Linked DNA regions of Homo sapiens. The protein of the gene in region 1 purifies or fractionates together with the protein of each later gene. This does not show direct contact. Each region holds a gene or a part of one and is shown on either strand. Other genes may lie near its edges.

Evidence for each region.
Region 2: the proteins of NKD2 (region 1) and DCPH1 purify together in Homo sapiens (affinity purification with mass spectrometry; 3 studies listed by BioGRID and IntAct, with this or other methods). This does not show direct contact.
Region 3: the proteins of NKD2 (region 1) and PLS1 purify together in Homo sapiens (affinity purification with mass spectrometry; 3 studies listed by BioGRID and IntAct, with this or other methods). This does not show direct contact.

What each region holds. Positions count from the first base shown.
Region 1 is NC_000005.10:1,011,686-1,018,808, forward strand, and holds part of NKD2 (protein naked cuticle homolog 2), read left to right. Parts: intron 1-7,123. UniProt on the Homo sapiens protein: Cell autonomous antagonist of the canonical Wnt signaling pathway. May activate a second Wnt signaling pathway that controls planar cell polarity.
Region 2 is NC_000006.12:151,447,972-151,455,561, forward strand, and holds the start of DCPH1 (damage-control phosphatase ARMT1), read left to right. Parts: upstream 1-4,494; 5' UTR 4,495-4,574; coding exon 4,575-4,615; intron 4,616-6,576; coding exon 6,577-6,682; intron 6,683-7,590. UniProt on the Homo sapiens protein: Metal-dependent phosphatase that shows phosphatase activity against several substrates, including fructose-1-phosphate and fructose-6-phosphate.
Region 3 is NC_000003.12:142,711,278-142,714,172, forward strand, and holds the end of PLS1 (plastin-1), read left to right. Parts: intron 1-223; coding exon 224-348; intron 349-594; coding exon 595-730; 3' UTR 731-2,387; downstream 2,388-2,895. UniProt on the Homo sapiens protein: Actin-bundling protein. In the inner ear, it is required for stereocilia formation. Mediates liquid packing of actin filaments that is necessary for stereocilia to grow to their proper dimensions.

The DNA.
Region 1 (7,123 bases):
GACCTACCCTCTCTCCCCAGCCCCCAAAATAACACAAATGAGATTGGCTATTATTAATTCCCTGTGAGCAATGCTGGCTCCTGCCTCTGTACGTGTCTGAAAACACCAACAGCAGCACTTTCCCAGACAGGTGTGTCTCTGCACCCCCGACGTGGCTCTCCCTGGCGACTCTGCGGAGCGCCACACTTTGCTTTTGGCGGGACCCGCACGGCTTCATCACCGAGTGTCCCTGAAGGGCTAGGGCCATGGGATCACTGGTGACGGTGCCGTGAAGGTCTGGAGAGTGGATTGTGAGGGATCCGGAGTCCCTGGGGATGTGCGTGGGTGAGGAGTGGTGCCATGGTGGCAGTGCACTTGTGTGGCTGTTTTTCCAAGTGGTAGTGACTGCAGGGAGGATGGCTTCAGGCCTGGGAACAGGCTGCCCCTGCACACTCACCCTCACCATCTGGTCTGCGAGACTAGCTTTAATTTCTACAGCGCTCCCTGAGGCTGGCGGAAAATGGTTCTGAAGACAAGAGTCACTGTTAACTGGAATGTTGTTGTGAATGGAGCACAGGCTTCCATGAAGTAGTGCTGAGGAAGGGTGCGCTGGGGCTAACTCCAGAGGCAGCATTGTAGCGAACACTCGTGACAGACCAGCCAGTGCGTGGAGGAGGCCGTGGCCCTGGCCTGCACGGGGGGCTCTTGCCCACATCTGCAGGAGGCAGCAGGCACGGCTCTGAGTGGCCCGTCTAGGGCAGGTCCCAGCTTACAGGAGGCACTCGCCAGTCCCATCCCCATGCCACGGCCCTTCTGAGTGTGCCAACATGGTACATGTTTCCTGGAAGGGAGCCAGGAGGACCACAGTCGTAAGACCTGCTGGCTCTGTCCAGGGCTGAGCTCCAGGCCAGGGCCCAGGCCTTCACCTGCACTGGCCTCTGGCTTCCAGCAGCAAACTCCATCTGCCCTCAGCATGGCCTTGCTCACGGGAACTGGGCTCAGCCCCACTACATGGCTTGACGCCTTCCGACTGGAACCAGCCACAGTGCCCCAGAGGCTCATATGCCTGCAGCTGGCCTTCCCCCAGAGGCAGGGGTGGGGCTGCCCCTTCCCTGCCCCTTCCCTGCCCCTCCTGGCCACCCAGGAGCCAGCGCTCACCTGTCCTCTGTGGGTCCAGAGAGCTGGATGTGGCAGTGGGATGCCCAGTTCTTGGTCAGTGGGAGCAGTTTCTTGTAGAAGATCCTGGAAAATTCTTCATGGCTTCAAGCACAGTCTGGACGCTACCGCATCAACACAGAGATGCAGGGTGGGGGCAAGATACACATTTGCAGGAGAGACTCGGGCCAGTGCACGTGCGCCCAGAGACAAGGCAGTGTGGACCATACTCTGCTTGGTGCTCGGCCACGTGCCACACAGAAGGAGAGGTTGTGGGTGCCCAGTCCACCCAGCTCTGCATTTGGGGGTGCAAGCCACTCCAAGATGTCCAGGAGAATGGCAGCTTCCAAAGGGAGCAGGGGTGCCTGGGGATGCCTCCAGCACAGACTCTGAGGGCCAACCTTCTGTCTTCTGTGACTCATGTTCCGGGACCCTGTGTCCTCATGGAGCTGAGGCCCATGTGGGGCTTTGTGTCAGAGCCGGCGGCAGCTGCAGTGTGTCATGGCTGCCCTTTGCTTTCTTTTTGGTGCCCTCTGTGTGCCTGGCCCTTGGATACAGGCAGCCGTGTTCCTACCCTGGGATGTGGCCCAGCCATGTGGCGAGGCCAGCACAGACATGCACAGAGGCTCAGGCACAGAGGGAACCGAAGGGAGTTGCCAGGCCACCTGGTCATCCCCCCTTGTGGGAGGCGTCGAGGTCACCTCTGGGCATGACACCTGATGCCCAGCACCTGAGAGCCATAGGACGGGTTGGATACCATGTATGTAGTTTCTGTGCCAGCCTGGGCCTTGGGCCCACTGAGGGCTGTGTGTGCGCCCAAGCTCTCCACCAAGCCGCAGGCATCCCCTGTCCTGCAGCAGGGGCTCTGGGGTGCTGACTGGGAGAGCGTGCTGACTGGGAGAGGCTGCTGCCGGTGCCTGGCCATGAGGTTGGGCCAGTGGATCTGTGTTGCCCATGGTGGAGGCCGGAGGCTGGCCAGTGGCGTGGTCCTGCCCGCTCGGGTCACTGTACCTGGACAGTGCAGATGTGCATTCTCAGTGTCGGCCCCTGTGTCTGTGAAGTGCATCCTGAGAAGCCCTGCACATGGACCAGGCAGGTGTCTGGATGGAGGCCCTGGAGCACAGAGCGTCCCTGCCACAGGGCCTTGGGCTAGAGTTGGGGGTTTCACAGACGAGGCCATCTGGGGCAGCTGTCACCCCTGGACTTCCAAAACAGCTTCCTGAAGCTAAAACTGCCCATTTTGCTGCTGAATGAGCTGAAGTTTTAGATTTCTGCAGGTGAAAGAAGACAGGTGGCTGCACCCTGTTCTCCTCAGTGGGCTGAACCACCATGGGAAGCCTGGTGCTGCTCCGTCCTCCTTCCTTCCTACTTGTGGCTGAGTAATTTGAATTCCTTTGAGGTTTTCATCTTGTTTTGGCTAAAGAGCTTACATCTTTCCTTTTCTTAAAAAACCCAGGCTGGTTTGCAATCCTCGGAAACCAATCATCAGCCCTGCAGCTTTGGGCCGCCGTATGCCTGCATTAGGGTGTTGGGGGTCCATCAGACGCACACGCGACTCCTGGGAGCCGCGGGAACTGTGGCTGGTGCCGGCCAAGGCAGTTGTGCCAGAAAGGGCAGGGCCGTCTCGAGTACCCATCCACGAGTGCCCTTCGGTGCCCTGGGCCCCTGCTGTGCATGCCTCCCGTGTGAGCAGCAAGGTGATGGTGAGATTGGAAATGCAGTTTCATCTGCCTTGTAGGAGTGGCTGGCTCTCCTTTGCCCCTGGGTGGGCACCGCTTGTTCAGAGCTGGCAGTAAGTCCATGGCCACCCCAGGTCCAGGCCCCGACTGGGGGAAACACACACCTTGCCACTGTCCTGTCTAGGCTAGGGTTGGGGGTTCGGCTCTTTCTATTTCTCAGGAAGCCAGGAGTCTGGGCCAAGGGCTCCTGTCCTCCACCCCCGCTTTGCGGCCAAGGGATACCCACTTGGTCAGCCCCGACAGAGGCTGTGAATGAAGTCCTAGTCAAAGACCATAGTTGGGAGCCACCATATGGCCGTGTTACGTGTGGCCCCCTCGCCAGCACCAGGTTTCTGTCATCCCATCGTTAGCAGAGGCGGCTTGCATGGTGGCTTGACAGCCTCTGGACCCGGCTTCGGACCCGGTGCTGCCACTCACAGCCTGGCCACATCCCTCGTGCCTGGGCCACCTGCTTCCCCTTGTGGTCCTGTGAGGAAAGACAAAAGGGACAGCTCCACGCTCCATAAGGCCAGGCAGCGAGGGCCACCTGGAGAGCAGCCAGGTGTGGCCGGGCCCCTTCCTGGCCTTTTGCCCCAAGTGCCGGGGTGCTGCAAGCCAGAGGGGTGCGTGAGTCCGTGAGCTTGTGCCAAGATGCTGTGGGCCTGATTCGTACTGCACAGTCATCTGAGCTGTCAGCAAGCTCTCACTGGTTGGCAGTGCCCACAGCCTCCCTGGCGTGGCCAGGTGTGGTGGGAGCAGAGGCCAGTGGGTGGGAGTGGGGTCCACCGTCCTTCCTGTAGAGAGGAAGCCTCTGGCCTCCTGGCTGCTGTTCTTGAGTTGGCAAAGCCACACTTTACGGAAGCGGTAGTTCTTGAAGCCAGACACACCTGAATTTGGAGTTGCCCAGCCTACCCCAGAATTTGTAGACAGCTACCTGCCAGATCACTGGGTCCCTGGAGCTCTGAAGGCTGAGCCCTATGTCCTTCCTGCAGGGCTCTCAGACAGATGCCTGCATCAGAAACTCCCTGGGTTATGACGAAAGGCCTATGACACCCCTAGGGAGTTGGGGAAGCCTCAGGAGCATCAGGAAGCAGGAGGAAGCAGGAGCCACTGCTGGGGTGAGGTCAGCATTTAGAGGCGGTCCTGCCCGCACATGCTGCCGCCAGCATTTCAGGGTGGGCTGCTCCCAGCAGGACTGCAGATCGGCCTGTCCATGTGTGGAACCCGAGGGGGCCTGTGCTGCGTCCTGGGGCATTCATGCTGGAGGGTTCCTGTGGCTCCGTCCTCTCACAGGTCTTACCAGCCGTGGCCCCTCTCCTGTTGGACTTGCCTTCCTGAACATGGGGAGGGGTCCCGAGCCCAGGACCCCTAATCAGTTCCAAGGGCTCCAGAGCTTTCAGTCTCTGCCACCTTCTGAGCCGTCGTCTGTCACAGATCATGACCGTCAGCTGTCCCTGGAGGTGCGGAAGGAGCCCTTCCTGTGGGGCTGCTGGGTTAACGCCGGAACCATGGGGAGCAGAAGGCGCGGTGTGTGAGAGGGGTCTGCCCAGGTAGCAGGATCCCCCCCCACACCGGACACTTCCCCAGCGTGGGGCGGAGCTCGTGGTGCTGGCCTGGAGGGACACACGGTGCTGACCTGGCTGCCGCCTCTGGACTGCGAAGCCTGGACCTGCTGGGACAGGAGCCTTGCAGAGACCCCGATCCGCTCTCACGGCGAGCTGCACCCATGCTGGCTGATGGGAGCTTTAATCTGCTTTCATGTTGGCAAATACTTGGCAGGGCACCCTTTGGCAGCCTTTCACGCTGGCGTGAAACAAATTGGGTCTGTTCGATCCTGTCCTGCGCAGAGCTGGAATTCACTGGTGGTGATGGCCAGCCCTTGGCAGCTGGAGGGGGAGGGTTTGTTTTCCTTTTGTTCTGCAGAATTTTCCAAGGAAATCGTAAATAGTTTTGCGCACCAAAATCAGAGAAGCTAAAAAGCACGAAATATTGTAATACAAACATTCAAATTGGAGATTATTTTAATGGTAAGTGTCTTGGCGGATTTAGACTGAGAGCCTTGCCAGAGGCCGATGGAAACGGGGGTCCCTCCTTGCTGTCTCCAGTGAGGTTCTCCGTGAGGCACTCACGTCGGTAGCTGGCAGGACCCTCCAGGGCTCCCACCTGCCCTTAAGGCCGTGGTCCTGCGTGGATGTACTTCCAGGACGAGGCCTCTCACATCCGCTAAGGGGGACGTGACAAGAGCTACAGCAGCTGTTTTTGGATAACAGAGCCTACCCCATCCTCCTTTCCACAAAGGATAACAGAGCCGACCTCATCCTCGTTTCCCCAAAGGATAACAGAGCCGACCCCATCCTCCTTTCCACAAAGGATAACAGAGCTGACCTCACCCTCCTTCCCACAAAGGATAACAGAGCAGACCCCATCCTCCTTCCCACAAAGGATAACAGAGCCGACCCCATCCTCCTTCCCACAAAGGATAACAGAGCCAACCTCATCCTCGTCCTTCCCACAAAGGATAACAGAGCCGACCTCATCCTCGTTCCCACAAAGGATAGCAGAGCCGACCCTATCCTACTTCTCACCAGGACGTGCCTGGACATGGTGCAAAGCTGCTGCCCCTGGTGGCCTCCCTGCTGCCCCGGGGACGTGGGTAGCTTGGCTCTCTGTGGCTGGCGTCTGGGCCTCAGCGTCCTGGGGTCCTCAGAGGGACCCCATGTCCCTCTGCCCACCATCACCGCCTGCTCTCTTGGCTGCCCAGGTGCACCCAGCTCAACTGTCCCGAGGGCGTGCCAGGCCAGTGGCCAGGTCCGTGTGCCCTGCACCCTTCAGGGCAGCCACTCATGTCTGAGACCAGCCAGCCCCAGACAGAGCTGGAGCAGGGGCCATTTCAGTGGCCCTGATTTTGCTCCTGAGGGCTGTGGTGTAACACGAAAGAACGTTGCTGTAGGCTTCCAGCCGTGGGATTCCAGGGCTGTCTTTGCCTTGTGCTGCTGGACAGAGCAGGACCTGCACCTCTGTTTGTCACAGGCTTGTCCTGGGCACCGCCTCAAAAGGAGGAAACAAAAACAGAAGGGCTGAGTCCCGGAGCCAGGACCCCAAACCAGAAGTCCCTCCCAGAGCCCACAGCCCCCCACCACGGGGCCGCCCTGCAGCCCCAGGGCCTGAGCTGCTTTCTGGATGCTGGGAGAACCGGACAGTGGCTGCTGGAAGGCAGGCCTGGAGGGCTCTGGGTGCTGGGGTGCGGGTGAGGCCGGGCATGGGTGCAGGCCTGTGGTGCTGGGGTGTGAGAGATGCTGGGCTGGAGTGTGGGAGAGGCCAGGCAGGGGTACAGGGCCCGTGGTGCTGGGGTGTGAGAGAGGCCGAGCTGGGGTGCAGGGCCTGTGGTGCTGGGGTGTGGGACAGGCCAGGCAGGGGCGGGGGCTGCCACTTGATGTGGGTGTCAGGACAGTGTGTGGTGAGGAGGCATGGAGGAAGCGTGGCCCCCCAGAGGCTTCCAGGCTGGGCAGCCACTGCAAAGGCCCTGAGGCAGGAGTAGGCCTGGAGGACGGGACGGTAGCAGGCAGGGGCTGCGAGAGACACAGCGGAGGAAGAAGAATGGCGGCCCCCACCCATCTCCCTCTGCCAGAAGGAGCCACGGGCACAGCCTACAGATGTGCACTGGTCTCTGTGCTGTGGGAGGCCAGACCTGGTGTCTGTGAGGAGCACCACAGCTGCAGACCTGCCGGATGACCCTCGGGTGACACTTTGGGGTGGAAGACCCCACCCACCCTGCAAGCCATGTTCCTCGGGCTCCGAGCCCCATCCTCACATCTGTGGAGCAGGTGGGACCACTAGCAGGGGCTTCTGGCCCTTCCTCTCCTCCCATTGATTTGTTGAAAGCGATTTAGGTTTTCTGTAAAACAAAGCGGACATGGGCCTGGGGAAGGTGCTTGCGGGTATTTCATGAGCTTTTCTAGGCCTGAGACATGTTTTAGGTGGCAGCGGGCTCACGTGTGTTGGGGGGAGAGACTGGTCACAGTCAGGGCGACTCAGGGGCTTGTGCTCAGATGGTGACGCCCAGCCCCCTTGTCCCCAGGGTGACAGGGAGAGGTGGCAAGAACTGGCAGCTGCCCACAGGCTGAGCCGAGCCCAGCAGAAAGGCCCAAGGCCGGAGCACAGAGGTGGCCTGGATGCTTCTGGCCGGTGGTCAGGACCCTGCCAGGCCTTGCTTGGAGGCATCTTGTGTATGAGGGGAGCCCTGCCCATGCCAACCACCTAGCTGTGCCCAG
Region 2 (7,590 bases), on another chromosome or scaffold:
CCTAGTTAATTTTTTTGTATTTTTAGTAGAGACGGGGTTTCATTATGTTGGCCAGGCTGGTCTTGAAATCCTGACCTCAGGTGATCCACCTGCCTTGGCCTCCTAAAGTGTTGGGATTACAGGCGTGAGCCACCGGACCCAGCCCATTTTTATCACTGCACCTTCTAGAAAGCCTAAGATTACATTTGTGCCTTACACTGTTTTTCTATCAGACAGGGCCCTATTGTCATTATCAATACATCGGACCTCCTCATCTCAGTTTCATCCATTTTACTCTCTAAGCACCACCTCCTATCTTTGCATCTCACTCCTTCTATTACCCAATTCCAATAATTCTTCAACCCCAACAGGACCCACAAGTCAATGATCCAACCACCTTTTCACTGTCTCTCACTCCCCATGACTTCACTTCCTCCATATCCAGTTTACACTCCATGGTCTACCATTCTAACCTCTCCCTTATACCCCTAGAATCCCTTGCATCCCTTTCTTCCCAGTCTTTCCCATTCATGAGCAGTAATAAGTATCTTTATAACTGCTAAGCCAAAAACGTGGGGTCCAGCTTGACTCTTTATTCTCCATATCCAACTTCTCAGTAAATCCCAAGGGCCTTCTAGGGACCACTGCTCATCATCAGTAATAATACTACCTGATCCAAACTGCTATCCTTCCCATGGATTATTATAATAGCTTCTTAACCAGTTTTCCTGATTCTGTTTTGGGCCCCCTACAGTTTCTTCTCAACACAGCAACCAAAGTGATCCTTTGAAGTTGAATCTCAACGCGAAATCTAGCTGTGGCTTCACGGTTCACTTAATAAAAGCCAAAGCCCTCCAACCAGGCATGGCGGCTCACGCCTGTAATCTCAGCACTTTGGGAGGGATCACTTGGGGTCAGGAGTTCCAGACCAGCCTGGCCAACACGGCGAAACCCCGTGTCTACTAAAAATACAAAAATCAGCCGGGCATGGTGGCATGGGCCTATAATCCCAGTTACTTGGGAGGCTGAGGCACGAGAATGGCTTGAATCTGGGAGGCGGAGATTGCGCCACTGCACTCCAGAATGAGCAACAAAGCGAGACTCTGTCTCAAAAAAAAAAAAAAAAAAAAAAAAAAAGCCTGGCGCGGTGGCTCACGCCTGTAACCCCAGCATTTTGGGAGGCCGAGGCGGGTGATTCACAAGGTCAGATGTTCGAGGCCAGCCTGGCCAACATGGTGAAACCTCGTCTCTACTAAAAATACAAAAAAATTAGCTGAGCGTGGCGGCGGGTGCCTGTAATCCCAGTTACTCGGGAGGCCAAGGCAGGAGAATCGCCTGAACCCGGGAGGTGGAGGTTGCAGTGAGCCGAGATCGCGCCACTGCACTAAAGTCTGGGCGACAGAGTGAGATTCTGTAACGAAAAAAAAAAAAAAAAGCTAAACCCCTCAGAATGGCCTGCATGGCACTACATTATCTGTCCTTTATCACCACTTTGACAGCACTCTCCTTTGCTTATTTTGCTCCTCATTCTGGTCTCTGGATCTGTGCACTTGCTGTTCCTTACGCTCTTCTCCCAGGGATCTGAAAGGCTCACACCCTCACCTCCTTCAGATGTTTGCTAAAATGTCTTCTACCCAGTGAAGCCTTCCCCAACCACTACATTAAAAACACACAACCAGCCCTCTCCCTCTCCCTCCTCTCCCTCTCCCCACGGTCCCCCTCTCCCCACGGTCTCCCTCTGATGCCGAGCCGAAGCTGGACTGTACTGCTGCCATCTCGGCTCACTGCAACCTCCCTGCCTGATTCTCCTGCCTCAGCCTGCCGAGTGCCTGCGATTACAGGCGCATGCCGCCACGCCTGACTGGTTTTCGTACTTTTTTGGTGGAGACGGGGTTTCGCTGTGTTGGCCGGGCTGGTCTGCAGCTCCTAACCGCGAGTGATCTGCCAGCCTCGGCCTCCCGAGGTGCCGGGTTTGCAGACGGAGTCTGGTTCACTCAGTGCTCAATGGTGCACAGGCTGGAGTGCAGTGGCGTGATCGAGGCTCGCTACAACCTCCACCTCCCAGCCGCCTGCCTTGGCCTCCCAAAGTGCCGAGATTGCAGCCTCTGCCTGGCCCCCCATCGTCTGGGACGTGAGGAGCCCCTCTGCCTGGCTGCCCAGTCTGGAAAGTGAGGAGCGTCTCTGCCCGGCCGCCATCCCATCTAGGAAGTGAGGAGCACCTCTTCCCGGCCGCCATCCCATCTAGGAAGTGAGGGGAGTCTCTGCCCGGCCGCCCATCGTCTGAGATGTGGGGAGCACCTCTGCCCCGCCGCCCCGTCTGGGATGTGAGGAGCGCCTCTGCCCGGCCGCCCCATCTGAGAAGTGAGGAGACCCTCCGCCCGGCAGCCACCCCATCCGGGAGGGAGGTGGGGGTCAGCCCCCGCCAGGCCAGCCACCCCATCCGGGAGGGAGGTGGGGGTCAGCCCCCCGCCCGGCCAGCCACCCCGTCTGGGAGGGAGGTGGGGGGGCCAGCCCCCGTCCGGGAGGAAGGTGGGGTGTCAGCCCCCCGCCCGGCCAGCCGCCCCGTCCGGGAGGGAGGTGGGGGGTCAGCCCCCCGCCCGGCCAGCCGCCCCGTCCGGGAGGGAGGTGGGGGGGTCAGCCCCCCGCCCGGCCAGCCGCCCCGTCCGGGAGGTGAGGGGCGCCTCTGCCCGGCCGCCCCTACTGGGATGTGAGGAGCCCCTCTGCCCGGCCACCACCCCGTCTGGGAGGTGTACTCAACAGCTCATTGAGAACGGGACGGGATGACAATGGCGGTTTTGTGTAATAGAAAGGGGGGAAAGGGGGGGAAAAGATTGAGAAATCGGATGGTTGCCGTGTCTGTGTAGAAAGAAGTAGACATGGGAGACTTTTCATTTTGTTCCATACTAAGAAAAATTCTTCTGCCTTGGGATCCTGCTAATCGGTGACCTTACCCCCAACCCTGTGCTCTCTGAAACATGTGCTGTGTCCACTCAGAGTTGAATGGATTAAGGGCGGTGCAAGATGTGCTTTGTTAAACAGATGCTTGAAGGCAGCGTGCTGGTTAAGAGTCATCACCACTCCCTAATCTCAAGTACCCAGGGACACAAACACTGCGGAAGGCCGCAGGGTCCTCTGCCTAGGAAAACCAGAGACCTTTGTGCACTTGTTTATCTGCTGACCTTCCCTCCACTATTGTCCTATGACCCTGCCAAATCCCCCTCTGCGAGAAACACCCAAGAATGATCAATAAAAAAAAAAAAAAAAAAAAACACAACCAGCATCCATTCTCTTATCTTCCTCCACTTTGCATTTCTCCATTGTTTAACATCACTTGCACACCTTTAATTTTTAGTTTATTAATTCATACTGCAAACGAACTCAGTTCTTATCATGTGCCAGGTATTGTCCTAGTTGCTGACAATACAGCTGAAAATAAAATAGACAAAAATCCTATCTTTTGAATCTTTTGAACCTTGCATTGGGAGTGACAGACAAAACGAGGTAAATCAGTAAAATACGTGAGACACAAAGCTAAAGGAAAAAAATAAGAGGAAAGGGCAGATTTTTGTGTCTTCCTTCCAGAATGGAAGCTCCCTGAGGATACGGATTTGTGTTTTTTCCTATTATATCTCCTGACAATAGCGCCCAGCACATAGTAGGCATTCGATCGAATTTTTAAAATGAAATACAAGGCAGTTACTCAGTTCCCGGGCACATTTCAACTTTTAGAGAACAATTACACCAATTAAGAAAATCGATTACAGCTAGGCTACGATTCGAGAGCTAAGTGGCGCTCATCTTTGGGAGTATGCCGTTCAATTCCTCAAACTCAAAATTATTTTATCGATTTCTACAGTTACCGCGGTGCACTGGCTCAAAAAAAGGGTTCATTAATTGAGTGCTTTTTACTCCCAGCTAAGCTGACCAAAGATCACGGTAAGAGGCAAAGGGTCACAGCCGCACTGGCGTAACCCGTAACTGTACACGTTCCGGGCGGCCAGGAGCCAGGGCGCAGACCTCCAAGCCGGACCACTCGAGCTGCTAAAGAAAAGGCAATACACTAACCTCTCCGCCGGAAGAGAAGAAGGAAGCGCCAGGGACGCACGCTTCCTCGGCAGGACTGCAGGGAAAGAGCCGCACCCCCAGCCTCTCACTACTGCAGCCAACCCATCTCCTGGAAGGGCGCTCCCGCCCACCCCCGCTACTGCGCAGCCGCACTGAACTCTGGTCCCACTTAGCGGGAGAAACTCGGGCCACGTGACTGTCTGACCACGTGAGCCGCGTCGCCGCGACCTCTTCCGCTCCCTAGGCCCTGGGACCTCCCGGTCCCTTGCCTGCTTCCGGCTTTCGCTCGCTTCCATATCCGCTCCTCTAGTCGCCCTCCGCTGGCCCCGCCTTCGTCCCCGGAAGATTGGGTCTTCTGGCGAGCCACTGTTTGCCGTTTGATCGGGCACCAAATAAAGTTTCTTTATTCAAAAGCACTTTTTTTTTAAAGCCACACCACCCCCATTCTCAGCTCCTCCTTCGCGGCGGTACCGCCTCTGTTTCTGCGGCGATTGAACAGCCGAGCTTTGCGGCCGGGATCGCGGAAAGTGATGGCTGTCGTCCCGGCGTCTCTCTCAGGACAGGACGTGGGGTTAGTCTAGCTTTTCTCCTCCCCACTTTTGCGGAAAGCCGGGCCTCGCCGGGAGCCTGTGGGGACTAAGCGGAGGGCGCCCGCTCCCCGGTGGGCTGCGTTCGAGTCCCGCCGCCGGGCGCGGCTTTCCGGGGCGCCTTTGCGGGTTTCGCGGACTGGCTCGGAGGCGAAGGGAGGCGGCCCCGGGGAGGGAGCCTGCCCGCGGCGGCTGCTCGTAAGGATCAGGACAGGGGTCAGCTTCGCGGTCTGTTCCTGGCGGTCACTTTTTATTTATTCACTTTAATAGACGCGCTTTGGGGGCGTTAAAATTCTGCGTAAGAGTTGGGGATCTCAGCGCTATTAAGAAACGGGTTTCTCCCTGTTGTTGATCAAATCGTAATCTCACAGTAAGAACTGTCTAGTTTTTTGCTTTATAGTCGTCACGCTACTGATTCTTGGGTAAAGTTGTGGGTGACCGTGCAAATAACATCCATTTGCATAAATCGAATGGCCAAATTTATATTTGAAATTTGTCCTTACTTCAAAATATTGCAAAAGACGAGAACACTTTGAAGAAAATAAACCTGGGCAGAAAGTAGGTTGAGGCCAACAAAGTGGCGCCAATGGCCCCAAATTGAGGCAGTCACTGTTTCAGGTCATGCAAGTATAGAGAGTATCTCCTTCAATTTTGCGCCCTAGGGCTTCTGGCCTCACTCCAGTCCTGGCCAGAGACTTTGTTCCAGAGGTGCAGGAAATGTAGTAGTTAGGAAAACAGTAATACTTTCCAATTAAAGTAAAATCTCAAAAAAGGACTTACTATACCTACTGCCTGGGAAAATTCAAGTGACAGTTGATTTAATGTTCCTGCTCACCCTCTGAGGTATTAGTGATTTCTTTTATTAATGATTTTTAAAAATTAAATTCTGATCAACGTAGTTATTATGCGCATTAAAACCTAATCACTGTTTTGGGTGGTACTGAAAGCACCACAGAGTCGGAAAGTGTGTGCAGTTTTTTTCTTAAAGTTCTATAGCTATCATTTGAGGAAACCTTTTGAAGAAATACCCAAGTTACAATCTAGTAATTTAACAATTGTCTCCTGTGATCTGGAGATAAAAACACTAGTCAGCTAAGCTCTGTGCTCTATATTTAAAACTGCACAGAATTTCTCCACCAAATAAAGCTTTTTTTCTACCTGTATCATGTATTTCCTTAGAATGATATAAAATGATAATCTGTAAATCTTGGGTTTTGTATGAATAAAATCAAGAATATCTTTAATTTTTTAATGCAGGTATAAGTTTTTCTTCATCTCCAGCTTGCTTCATTCTTGAACACTTCTATAAAATCTCTGATTTTTTGAGTGGGAAGAGACAGTAGCACGCCTTCATTTGCTTAGGGGCAGAATAGGATGGAAGGAGTCCATTGTGCAGATAGAGAAGGCAGAGAAGGGGAAAATTTTTGAAAATAATTAAAATTGACTTAGAAAATAGACAGAATGGAGAGAAACAGGCTTAAAAGTACCTTTAATTCTTTATGTTGTTCAAGCACATTAGACCCTTTAGGTGGTTTTAGATGCATTGCTTCATTCATCTTTCTAAGCAGGTGACTTAGCAGATAGTAGACCTGGGACAAGAGCCTGTTTGATTTCTAAGCTAATCCATTCCCTATCCTATCACTTTGCTAAGCGAGTTTCTGATTTAGGAAAATAAAAGCAATAGAATAGGAAAGATAAGAATGATTAAACAGACTCCATGGGAGAATCTGGGATTAGAGGCACCAAGACAGTTTGGCTTCCATGACATACCAGCGAATTTTCCAGGTTTTCTTATGTCTTAATATAGTAATCATACAATACTTGTCTATCTTTTAATAGTTGTATGAGGAGTTTAATATACATGAAGTGTTCCAGAAACTAAAAGATAGCCAGTCTTCTAGTATTGATGCTGCTAAGTTATATATTGCATGTGACTCTTTTCTAGATCATTTGCATATCTTACAATTAAAGACAGAATACCACAGATCTTAACTAAGGTTATTGATACATTGCATCGACATAAAAGTGAATTTTTTGAGAAACACGGAGAGGTAAGAATTGTTTTAACTTTTAATTTTTTGTTAATTTCTCAACAGAAACATAATAAATAGTTCTTGAAGGTATCAATTTTCCTTTAAATGTAAAAATCAATAGATGGGCCAAGTATTTATTTGTTTTTAAGGTAATACATTGAAATGAAGATAGAACAGCCAATCTTCAATTTAGAAAATGATTGTGTTCCAATAATTAATTCTGTCAGTTATTTAGACTTCAGAATGTATTTTCTAATATATGCAATGTTGTAATTGGTGACTGGGCAACAGACTTGCAATTGACTTAGTCAAGTGACTAAGCAATTGAGTTGCTTAGAAGAGCTTTTTAAATTTCAAGTTTAATTTGAGTTGCAGTATTTATATTACTAATTTGAGATCTTGAGTCCTGGAAGTTCAAGCTGCTATGCAAAGCTCAGTGATATGAATTATAATTGATTGACACATTGTACTGATTCAAGTTGGGACTCATTAGCATTCAGTGCAGAATAGGACTTTAGAAATCACTTTGTCCATTCAATTAATGGATGAGGAAAAATCCAAATAACTATGTTATTGAAGGGGTGGGTTGCCCCTCCACACCTGTGGGTGTTTCTCGTAAGGTGGAACGAGAGACTTGGAAAAGAAAAAGACACAGAGACAAAGTATAGAGAAAGAAATAAGGGGACCTGGGGAACCAGCGTTCAGCATATGGAGGATCCCGCCAGCCTCTGAGTTCCCTTAGTATTTATTGATCATTCGTGGGTGTTTCTCCGAGAGAGGGATGTGTCAGGGTCACAAGACAATTGTGGGGAGAGGGTCAGCAGACAAACACGTGAACAAAGGTCTTTGCATCATAGACAATGTAAAGGATTAAGTGCTGTGCTTTTAGATATGCATACACATAAACATCTCAATGCTTTACAAAG
Region 3 (2,895 bases), on another chromosome or scaffold:
ACCTTATTCAGATATGGTGACAACTCTATATTATATATAAAGATTCAAGGAAAAGTATATTTTAAAGGGTTTATTTATGTGTGCTGGTTGCAGAAAAGCTGAACGTTAGGTTAAGTACAAAGAATTTGTAGATTGCCTTCAGTTATATGATCAGAAGAGTCTGAAAATAATGAAAATTAAAGGTCAGATGTTTATGAATGTTCATCTATGCTTTATTTTCTAGGATAAATCTATAAGCACAAGTTTACCTGTCCTAGATTTAATAGATGCCATTGCACCAAATGCAGTTCGTCAAGAAATGATCAGGAGAGAAAACTTATCTGATGAGGACAAGCTGAACAATGCTAAGTAAGCCTTTATGGTTTATATTACAATACATGGCCCTTTAATTCTCTAAAATCCTTATAGGAAAAGTTACTATGCCCTTAAAATTCATATTTTTAAATATAACTTATATGTGAGTCTTAGATTTAAGACTCACAAACTTAACCTTTTCGTAAAACTAATCTTGTCAAAATATTTCACTCTTTTGTTAAAATATGTTAAGTGAAAACACAGTGGATAACACCAAGATATTTTTCTTGTCTCTTCAAGATACGCCATTTCAGTTGCTCGAAAGATCGGTGCCCGGATATATGCATTACCTGATGACCTCGTAGAAGTGAAACCAAAGATGGTTATGACGGTGTTTGCATGCTTAATGGGAAAAGGACTGAACAGAATAAAATAATCATTTCATATGATTTTCTGCCACATTAAACATATTGTATGCCTCACAGTTTACAGGATTCTGAAATGTAGTGGGTGTAAAACCAGAGATTATTTGTATGCTCAAAATAGTTATATATTCATTAATGAATTCAATATCCTGTTCATACTAGTTAGAGCTGGTCAGCCTTTTTGGGTAACACAGTTAATTTACCAACTGATACAGATAATAGAATATATTCATAATCAAGCTGATACTTCATGATTAAATTATTTTTGTTGCTTAAAAGTCGTATTAGACAAGACTAAATCATTCTTTTTTATGGTTCAAAAAAGATGAATACAAACGTTTTTGCAGGTTCTGCTGTGAAATGTGGTTTGATTTTTTTGGTGTGTTAATTTTGATCATAAATGCATTCATACTCATAATCCAGTTTAATCCTTTTATTTGCTTCCTCCAACTATTTAAAGTGGTCCAAAAACACTTTTCTGTAAGTTTCTATACTGTCTAAAACCTTATGGTGACCAGAATTGTTTATTAATATCAAACTTTTTTATATATGAGAACTAATTCTTGAATAAACCCCAAAGTTCACTCTCTTGTTTAAGTAGCAGCAGCTTTTTACTTAAAATTTAATTTTAACTACATTGATACTTTACACATCCTAGTTTGGTAACACAGCTTTAACTATGTCATGCAACATATATATGTTGGTAGGATGTTATTAGAGAGATATGTGTGCATATATATTTTTTTGCACCTGAATCACCCAGCTTTTCATAAGTGGTATGTTTAATTGGTCATTCAGCCAACCATCAGTATTTTCCCCCCACAACATGTGTAACACTTTTCAGTCTGTGGATATCTGATACATTAAGATTTCTTTTTATAAGTATTCATTTTGAATGTGCATATAGTTATTTGACCCCTTCCAAATACTTGTAGCCAAACATTGGCTAGAACATCCCAAGATATGCTGACACTGTCCTGTTAGCTTCATATTATACTTGCTAGTTTAGGTCTCTATAGAAGCCCTATATAATTTAGAATATGCCCACTGAATATCTTTAATAGAAAGTAACATAAAGCTAGTATTCAATGTAGAGTATTTTCATATGTTTTTCACAGCCCGTTACAAATTGGCAATGTTTGGTTAATGTTTGTATTACTTGGAAATCGCTACAGCTTGGACTATTTTTTTCTAAATTTTTAGCATTAGTCCATTTCTGCTGCTAACAATTGAATCCAGAAATCTACTTTCTCCATCTTCCACTGTTAGTGCCAGTGAGCAATACTGTTGTGCAACAAAAATGTCACTTTATCTCAGTGTGAATGAGTAGTCTAAATTCCCTTTCTACCATTGATTTAAATATATATATTGGTAAGAGAGACTGCCCATGTGTTTAGAATAGAATTTTTTAAATGAAATGATCAACAGGTGGAATTTGAAATATATTCTTCTACAAAAGAGATTTCTTTCCCTTTTATATTTTGATGATTGTTTTCTTAAGATTAAGATATGTTCTTGCTCTTTTATAAGATTATTTAAATTATGTTTCCCTCTGATTTTTTTTCACCATTGTATTTACTAAGTTATTGGATTTACATGAAATCTGGCACTTTAGGGTGTTCTTTTTCTCACAGAGTATATTTAATAAAAATGCTGTGTATATAGAAATGTGTTTATATTTATTTCATTTGAAGAAAAATATTCAGCCTTGAAAATTAGTCTAGCATAAGCTTATTTTCCAGAAAAGAAAAGAATTCCTAAATGAGTTAGTAAAACAAAAAAAAAATTGTGTCTGATTTCTTTGAAGATGAGGGTAGTTCTTTTGTTCTTAAATATGAAGAATTATTAAAAACCAACTGTGTGATTACTACAATTTAGTTTGTGCTGAAATAATTCAGGTGAATCAATCCATTCACAAATTTATCATTTATTATGATCCAGATACTATGCTAGACACTGGGGATTCATCTGAAAAAAATACAGATGAAGTCTCCTGACCTCATGTATCACATCCATGTATGATATCCTAGTAGAGAGACAATTCGTAAATAGGAATTTTAGACAGTGATAATGCAGTAGAAGAAATAACATAAGGTAATGTGATAGAGACTGACTTGGGAAATGGAGTGGAGATTATTTGTATTTGGGTGGTCAGGGAAGGTCTCTCTAAGGATAT